Regions from separate parts of the Homo sapiens genome. Here regions 1 and 2 are each linked to region 3. Evidence: fine-mapped expression QTL. A gene starts in region 3. Each other region holds a variant in brackets. All regions are shown on one strand. Distances are between the middles of the regions.

Region 1 (2,751 bases), 36 kb after region 3:
CCGCGCCTGGGGGAGAAAGGGTGTCAGAGGGGGAGGAGCAGGATGGGCCCAGGGCCTGGTCTTGATGAGCCATCCAGCCCAGCATGGCCGCTGGTTGGAGGGAAGTGTCAGGTTGTCTGCAGTTACAAAAACCTCCCTTATGCCGTAAGCTGGGAAGAGAGGGGAGTGGGGGTGCTGGGGTGGAGGTAGAGGCCAGTCCAGAAGGGCCCTGGCCCTCAGGGCTCCCAGGTAGAGACCATGAGAGGGAGAGAGACAGCCGGCGGCGGAGATGCCTCAGGAGCCCAGGAGGAGGGTGTCAGGAGTGATGGCCCGGCTTCCAGGGTGGGGACAGTGAGTGGACAGAGCGTGCTTGTCAGGGGAGATGGTGAGAGTGTGCAGGGGTGCGTTTCATCAGGAGGCTGCGCTGGAGGTCTAGGGCTGGAGGAAGGTGTACAGTCTACCCCGATACCCCTCCCCTGAGAGCTGGGAGGGAGAGGGGCCCAGACAGACCCAGGAGAACAGCAGCAGGGAGATACCTTCAACCCAGGCAGAGGACCCTGTTAGGGGGTGCCAGAGCATCTGGCCTCAGCCCTCTCTTCCCATCCACCACGGGACACGCTTCCCTCCGTCTCCCCATCCACCGCAGGACACGCTTCCCTCCGTCTCCCCATCCACCACGGGACACGCTTCCCTCCGTCTCCCCATCCACCACGGGACAAGCTTCCCTCTGTCTCCCCAGGCCCGGCTGCCCCTGAAGTGGATGGCCCCTGAAAGCATCTTCGACAAGGTGTACACCACGCAGAGTGACGTGTGGTCCTTTGGGGTGCTTCTCTGGGAGATCTTCTCTCTGGGTGAGTGCAGGATGGGGTGCCGGTGGGGAGAGGAGGCGAGGTCACTGGCGGCAGGTTACATGACCGCCCCTGCTGGAGTAAGGGACTGGGCACCTGGAGGTGTGTGCCAGGTCGTTCTGAAGCAGGTGGTTTGTGGGCCACCAAGGGCCCCCCACCTCTCCCCAGCCTGGCCCAGCCTCCGAGAGGACTTTGCCTCCAACGTGGGCCACCCTCTGTGGGGTGCACATTGAAGCCTGAGCCAGGACTGAGCCTTTTCACATGGCAGCCCCAGAGGGAGCTCAGTGCCCAGTCAGCAGACGTGCCTACTCCAAGAGCTCCAAGAGCTCCATGTGGGAACTCAGGCCCCGCTGCGAGCATGATGAAGTCTCCAGGCCAGGGTAGGGCAGTGAACTTGAAAAAGTTAAAATGTCACCAAGTGGCAACTGATCCAC[G/A]CTACTGCGGAAACTAAAGGAGCAGGAAGAGTGTAGGAGGCGTGGGAGCTCGGGTAAGCCAGAGGGGCCCAAGGAGGGAGTTCAGCAGTCCAGGACGGGGAGCAGCAGGGGTTGGGAGGAGCAGCAGGGGTTGGGGGGAGCAGCAGGGGTTGGGGGGAGCAGCAGGAGAAGCAGCGAGAAGCAAGAGAGGCTTTGTTGAAACTGCCTGCAGGCGGCTCCCCCGCCGCTGATGATCCAGTAACCATGATGTCTACCGTGTCGCCAGTGGGTGGATGCTCTTGGCACCCCTAGCAAGCAGGCGGCACAGTCCTCTTTTAACCAAATGAACTAGAGCTGGGGAGGGCAGCGACTTGCCCACAGGTCCCAGGTAGAGCACAGTCGGGTGAGCCATCTCCACCCCACCACGGATGGGGAAAGGGACAGGACGGGGTGACTTGATGGGGAAGGGACAGGATGGGGTGACTTGGGGGGCTGGGCTGAGCCGCAGGAGGCTTGCTCCCCACCCACCTCCCCTTCCTGTTGTCAGGGGCCTCCCCGTACCCTGGGGTGCAGATCAATGAGGAGTTCTGCCAGCGGCTGAGAGACGGCACAAGGATGAGGGCCCCGGAGCTGGCCACTCCCGCCATGTGAGCCTCCCCATGGCCCTGCAGGTTTTGGGGACAGCAAGCGTCGGGGGCGTGGGGGTTGTGTCCATGAGAAGGTGGCATCAGGGAAGCCAGGGCCAGTAGGACAGGCCTGGGCACCACCCTCAAGATACACGGGTAGTCTGTAGCACAGCTGCACCAGGAGGACACCAGGAGGGAAGGCCGGGCGCTGTCGGAACAGAGCCGAGTGTTCAGGGAAAGCATCACCAGGAGGGGACGCTGGGCTAACACTTGAAGGAGGAACGAGGGTAGCTGGACAAGAGTGGGAGACGTGTCAGGAGGAGGGCAGAGTGGGTGAGAGGGCCCAGGAAGGCTGGGGCACTGAAGGTCCTGGGACGGGGGTGGGGTGCATGCAGTCCAGCAGCCCACGTGATCCTGCAGACGCCGCATCATGCTGAACTGCTGGTCCGGAGACCCCAAGGCGAGACCTGCATTCTCGGAGCTGGTGGAGATCCTGGGGGACCTGCTCCAGGGCAGGGGCCTGCAAGTGAGCCCCTTCCCCACCCTGTTCTACTATGGCCTTTGGCCCCTGCCCTGGGTCCCTGGCCCGAGCTGCCCCTCCAAGCCCATCTAGGCTCTGCCCACCTCTCAGCTGCTAGGCTAGGGTGGTGGGGTCCTGGGCCCCTATCCACACCTCGTCCCCACACCCTTGCATCTTTCTGTTGAGTACACACCCGCTGCACAGCTCCACTGCCTGCTCCAGGTGCTGTGTGGATAGTCAGAGCCTGTCCCTGCGCGAGGGGAATCCTAGGCTGGTCCCCCCCGGCCTGTGAGGCAGCCCCATCTCCCTGGCATCGTCATGATGTATTCCTTCACCTGGTGCCAGTTCTGTCCCCCACTCCACTG
Region 2 (2,751 bases), 30 kb after region 3:
ACCTTGGGCAAGTCGTGGCCACCAGAAGGGGTGCTGCCTGCAGGTGCACGCTCTTACACACACACACACACACGCCGGCCCCTTTCTGCCCACGCAGGCTCCGAGGATAAGGGCAGCATGGAGATCGTGATCCTTGTCGGTACCGGCGTCATCGCTGTCTTCTTCTGGGTCCTCCTCCTCCTCATCTTCTGTAACATGAGGAGGGTGAGTGTCCCTCCCCGCTCCTGATGGAGTCTCTCTCAGGCCTTCCCCACCCTGGCCGCCCCTAAGATAAAGAATAAGGTGCCCGCCCTAGTTCACCTGGCAGCCTTGTTTCCTGGGAAGCCTCCCTGCCCTTCACGCTGGGCTCCAACCCCGCAGAGGTTGTCTGTCTTTTTTTCTGTCCCCTCCTTGACTGAGAACCCCGCAGGAAGTGCCATCTGTCCTGGGCAAAGTTCTGCCCAAGCCACAGTGGTATGGCCAAATCAGTGAGCTGCCCCACTCCTCCCTGTCCCCTCCCCGCAGCCGGCCCACGCAGACATCAAGACGGGCTACCTGTCCATCATCATGGACCCCGGGGAGGTGCCTCTGGAGGAGCAATGCGAATACCTGTCCTACGATGCCAGCCAGTGGGAATTCCCCCGAGAGCGGCTGCACCTGGGTGAGGCCAGCACCAGCCTGCCCAACCCACACCTCCTGCCCGACCCACCTGCTGCAGGCCGGAGTGCCTGAATCCCTCCATTTTCAAAACTTGCACCAGGAAGTTCCGCCTGGCCTGACCTGTCCCTGTGGGCGTGGGTACCTAGAACCTCAGCCAGGGTCCCCAGTTCCCAGGCTCCCTGAGGTCACCTGCTGCCACCCTGAGCAGGGTGTATCTGTCACACCTACCCGGGAGGATGCGCGGCCTCCTGTCCACCTCTCCTTGTCTTCCCGCTGTGGCTCCCCACGCTCCTCCTGCTGCCAGGCCTGTCCTCCTGGACCTCTGCACGGGGCTCCCCCGCCGCCCACCTGTCTCCACGCTCACCCCGTACAGCTCACCTGCAACTGGCCCCCTGCCCCGACAGGGAGAGTGCTCGGCTACGGCGCCTTCGGGAAGGTGGTGGAAGCCTCCGCTTTCGGCATCCACAAGGGCAGCAGCTGTGACACCGTGGCCGTGAAAATGCTGAAAGGTGTGGGGTCAGCGGGCGGAAGGGGCAGCCTAGCTGGTGAGGAGCAGCAGCTCGGGGTGGGCCGGTGGGACGGCAACTCGGGAAGGGAGACTGAGGCTGGAAGCCAGTCTCATCCGAGATTCTACAGGGAGGCTGCGGGCTTCAGAGCCGAGGGACCACCCGAACCCCCT[CTG/G]CCTCAGTGGGGCCGGCAGGATGTCCTGGGGGCCCTTAGTAACCCTCCCCCTCCCAAAAGCGCCGGGTGGCGGGGAACGGGGACCTGCCAGGGTCGGGGCCGGTGTGAGGCCCGTGTCCCCTCCAGAGGGCGCCACGGCCAGCGAGCACCGCGCGCTGATGTCGGAGCTCAAGATCCTCATTCACATCGGCAACCACCTCAACGTGGTCAACCTCCTCGGGGCGTGCACCAAGCCGCAGGGTACGGAGCGGGCGGCCCGCTGGGACGGCGAGACCCCGGGCGCGGGGCGCCGCGGGCGGGAGGGGGCGCGGGTGCAAACGCGGAGCGCGCCCGCAGCGCGCCCCGGGTTCCGAACGCACGGCCGCCGCCCGGTCCCGCCGCAGGCCCCCTCATGGTGATCGTGGAGTTCTGCAAGTACGGCAACCTCTCCAACTTCCTGCGCGCCAAGCGGGACGCCTTCAGCCCCTGCGCGGTGAGCGGGCGGCCTGCGGGGCGCCGCGGGCGGCGGGGGAATGGAGGCGCCTCTGCGGCGGACGACTGGGCGCCCTCGAGCCAGCTTCGTGCATCCGCAGGAGAAGTCTCCCGAGCAGCGCGGACGCTTCCGCGCCATGGTGGAGCTCGCCAGGCTGGATCGGAGGCGGCCGGGGAGCAGCGACAGGGTCCTCTTCGCGCGGTTCTCGAAGACCGAGGGCGGAGCGAGGCGGGCTTCTCCAGACCAAGAAGGTGAGAGCCTGGCCTCTTCCCTTTTCCTAGTGCCTGACGGGCCCGGTTATATCCCGTGATCAGGCACCCCAGCCTGGGGTCCTCAGCGGGGGCTTTCATGGGAGAGTGTGGAATGGGCTCTGCCTTAGGAAGGGAAGACACCTCGGGGACAATTTTCACACAGATGTTTTACGATTGACTGGGTCATCAGAGGCTGAATAGGAAATTGCCCTGCAGACAAGGCAGGCAGTGGAGGGCCAAGCAGCAGGTGCCCGGCCCCCACAGAGCAACAGTATTTACTGCTCTGGGAGTAGGACGTGGGTGTCCCAGAGGCTGAGGGGCAGGAGAGGGTCCTCTGGAGTAGGACGTGGGTGTCCCAGAGGCTGAGGAGCAGGAGAGGGTGCTCTGGAGTAGGATGTGGGTGTCCCAGAGGCTGAGGGGCAGGAGAGGGTGCTCTGGGAGTAGGACGTGGGTGTCCCAGAGGCTGAGGGGCAGGAGAGGGTGCTCTGGAGTAGGACGTGGGTGTCCCAGAGGCTGAGGGGCAGGAGAGGGTGCTCTGGGAGTAGGACGTGGGTGTCCCAGAGGCTGAGGGGCAGGAGAGGGTGCTCTGGAATAGGATGTGGGTGTCCCAGAGGCTGAGGGGCAGGAGAGGGTGCTCTGGAATAGGATGTGGGTGTCCCAGAGGCTGAGGGGCAGGAGAGGGTGCTCTGGGAGTAGGACGTGGGTGTC
Region 3 (2,751 bases):
CATTGCAGTGCAGTGAGATCGTCCCACTGCACTCCAGCCTGGGCAACAAAAGAGAGACTTTGAGAAAAAAAAAAAAAAGTACATTCTGAAAAAAAAAGCAAAACATATATTTTGATGATAAAATGATAAACAAAAGCAGGGAAATGATAATGCCAGGGTAGTGGGCATCTTCTGGGGTTGGTGAGGGGTTTGTGATGGGAAGTGAGGGGATGTGGGGATGTCATTCTACATCCCTTGGCCTGGAGAATGGAAACACAGGTATTTGTTGCTTTAAAATTCAGGTTTATAATATGCTGATATATTATGTACTTTCCATAAGTGTGTTACATCTCATAATCTTTCAAAGCTAAAAAAAATCAATATATGATTGATAAATACCTAACTTCATGTATCGCTTGGTTACCTAGTTTCCCCAACCTTATTTGTTAAATTATCTACACTATCCGCACTGATTTGTGATTCCAGCTTAATAATATAGCCACTTCTTACCTGGATTGGAGAGAGCTGGTAGTGGTTATTGAAAATCTACTCTTGCTTTTTGGCGAGGATGAAAGGGCTTTGGGGGGCGGGGGTGGGGGGATGGAAAATGTGAATGAAACGAAAAGCAGGGAAGGAGGTTGAGACAGTCATGGTCATGGGCTTCATTATTAAACAGGAAAATTCTAGAGACAAACTGAAAAGAGAACGGAAGTCTGTAAGAGGGTTGCCAAGTCAGAAAGCAAAAGCAAAGTGTCGCTTTATTAAAAAGGTGGGGGCGGGTCCTGATTGAGCTGAGAACAAAACATCTGGGGGAGTTCTAAAGCTAGGAGGCCAGGCCTGCAGGGAGGGGGTCGGTCATCCCGGGTGTCCCGCTCACGGGTGCGGCTTCCGTCGACACTGTCCGTCGACACTGTGCAGGTAAACACTGCTGAACGGGTTTTGTTTTTGCTTTTTTTTTTTTTTTTTTGGCTCCCAGACTGGAGTGCAGTGGCGCGATCTCGGCTCACTGCAACCTCCTTCTCCCGGGTTCAAGCGATTCTCCTGCCTCAGCCCCCCCGAGAAGCTGGGATTACAGGCGCGCACAACCAAGCTCGGCGTATTATTTTATTTATTTGCTTGTTTATTTTTGAGACTGGGTCTCCCTATGTTACGCCGGCTGGTGCCACTATTTTCAAAGATGTAACATACTATTTTTACAAGGATTGCTTTCTTGTTTAGTCTAGATTTTACCGATGGAAAGAAAGGACGGAAAAGAGCGCGTGCCGCATTTTGCTCCCCTTTGCCCACCAGGCTCCATCACCTCCGGAGCGCATCGCGAGACCGTCTGCGTTACCCGCGTCCCCGCGCCCGGAGCCGCCCAGGAGGGGGCCCGGACCCTGTGGTGCGGAGCGCGCACTGCTCGGGTGCACCGGACGCCCCGCGGCGGGCTGGGAGGGACGGGGGGAGGGGGGCGCGGGGAGCGGCCTGAATCCCGGGCCCGCCTCCGGCCCCCGCCCCGCCCCGCCCCGCCCCAGGCCAGCCGGCGCCCGCGCGGACACTTTCAGCCCCGAGCCGCGGCCGCTCGGGTCGGACCCACGCGCAGCGGCCGGAGATGCAGCGGGGCGCCGCGCTGTGCCTGCGACTGTGGCTCTGCCTGGGACTCCTGGACGGTGAGCGCGGCGAACGGGCCACCCGCCCGAGCGTGGGGCTGGCCGGGGAGGGGGTACCGCGCACCTGGGGCGGGCGCTGAGACCGCTCCGCCGGGTACGGGCGGGGGACACGGTGGCCCTGGTGCGCGGACGCCTGAGGGGAGCACGGCGCTTGGGGCGCGGGACCTCGGGATGAGGAAGGGGCGGGCGGGGACCGCAGCCGGGTCAGGGCCAGGGCGGCCGGGCCGCGCCTCGGCGCAGGGGTAGCTCTCCCGGCCCCTGAATCCGCGTCTCCGTCGGTGGCTCCGCGTCCTCGGAGCCGGGCCCTGCCGGGCTGCGCGCTGAGCCCGGATCCTTCGCGCCCTTACTCGCTTCCCCGCGGGGTCCCCGCGCCGCGCCGTCCCGACCCACGCGCGCCGGAGATCCATCCCGGCCGGGCCCCGGACTTGGGTGCGCACTTCCCGACGCCCAGCGCCTCCGCTCGCGGTCGGTCCCCCAGAGGGCGCTCGAGGCGGGCTTCCCCCTCCCCGTGGCCGGCGACGGCGGGGACAGGGGCCGGGGACCACCGCGCGCCCGAGGCGGACGGGTGCAGGTGCACGCTGGCACTTGAGACGAATCTTGAGGAGGCGAATCGCGGGCTGTCAGCGCCGCAGAAGGGGCGGAAGGCCAGGGGTCCCCGGATTTGAGGGGACAGGGGCCTCGAAGGCCAGCTGAGGAGCAGAGGCCCCCGCGGGAGGGTCCCCTGCACAGGAGAGGCGGGGTTCGGTTTGTGTTGGGATGTGGCTCTGGCGGGGAGAGACGCAGACCTGAAGCGGAGGCGGAGGGGTTGGAAAGAGGGACTGTGGGGGATGAGCGGGCGGCAGAGGGAGTGGATGGAGATGTCAGGGAGGAAGCTGAGAAGATGAGCTGGGAGTCCCCACGGAGCTGGTGTCCCTGGAAATCAAAGGGTGTAAGGGCGGGGTCAGGGGTTCCAGTGTCTGAAGCCCTGAAGTCAGCGACGGGGACCTCAACATTTCTGCACGCCATAGGAATTAAATACTGGCTTTACATGCTTGTAATTCTCACAGGGAGTGTCAGACCCATTTTACACATGGAGAAGCTTAGACCAAGGACATGTGTCACTTCCCCAAGGTCCCCAGGAGGC

Alleles and levels. Positions count from the first base shown, and alleles are read on the strand shown. Sizes are in standard deviations (SD) of each study's normalised expression.
For the expression in caudate of the gene that starts at base 1,516 in region 3, A is the low allele of the variant in region 1 and G is the other (large effect, 0.95 SD a copy in GTEx).
For the expression in skeletal muscle of the gene that starts at base 1,516 in region 3, G is the high allele of the variant in region 2 and CTG is the other (small effect, 0.20 SD a copy in GTEx).

Evidence for each region. PIP is the estimated chance that this variant, and not a neighbour inherited with it, causes the effect.
Region 1: its variant is the best candidate, but not a certain one, in a credible set for the expression of FLT4 in caudate (GTEx, PIP 0.51).
Region 2: its variant is the best candidate, but not a certain one, in a credible set for the expression of FLT4 in skeletal muscle (GTEx, PIP 0.51).

The regions. Positions count from the first base shown.
Region 1 is chr5:180,612,147-180,614,897 of GRCh38, reverse strand. It overlaps FLT4 (fms related receptor tyrosine kinase 4), which reads left to right. Exons shown (of 30, transcript NM_182925.5): 24 at 719-830; 25 at 1,788-1,887; 26 at 2,287-2,392. Among named protein-coding and RNA genes, the nearest start is that of SCGB3A1, 22 kb to the right of the region's middle. The variant G/A (reference allele first, on the strand shown) is at 1,262.
Region 2 is chr5:180,618,062-180,620,812 of GRCh38, reverse strand. FLT4 (fms related receptor tyrosine kinase 4) reads left to right here. Exons shown (of 30, transcript NM_182925.5): 16 at 98-204; 17 at 505-640; 18 at 1,044-1,148; 19 at 1,447-1,560; 20 at 1,704-1,792; 21 at 1,893-2,043. Among named protein-coding and RNA genes, the nearest start is that of SCGB3A1, 28 kb to the right of the region's middle. RefSeq lists an enhancer at 1-982. The variant CTG/G (reference allele first, on the strand shown) is at 1,319.
Region 3 is chr5:180,648,365-180,651,115 of GRCh38, reverse strand. It overlaps FLT4 (fms related receptor tyrosine kinase 4), which reads left to right and starts at 1,516. Exons shown (of 30, transcript NM_182925.5): 1 at 1,516-1,628. The coding sequence starts at 1,571.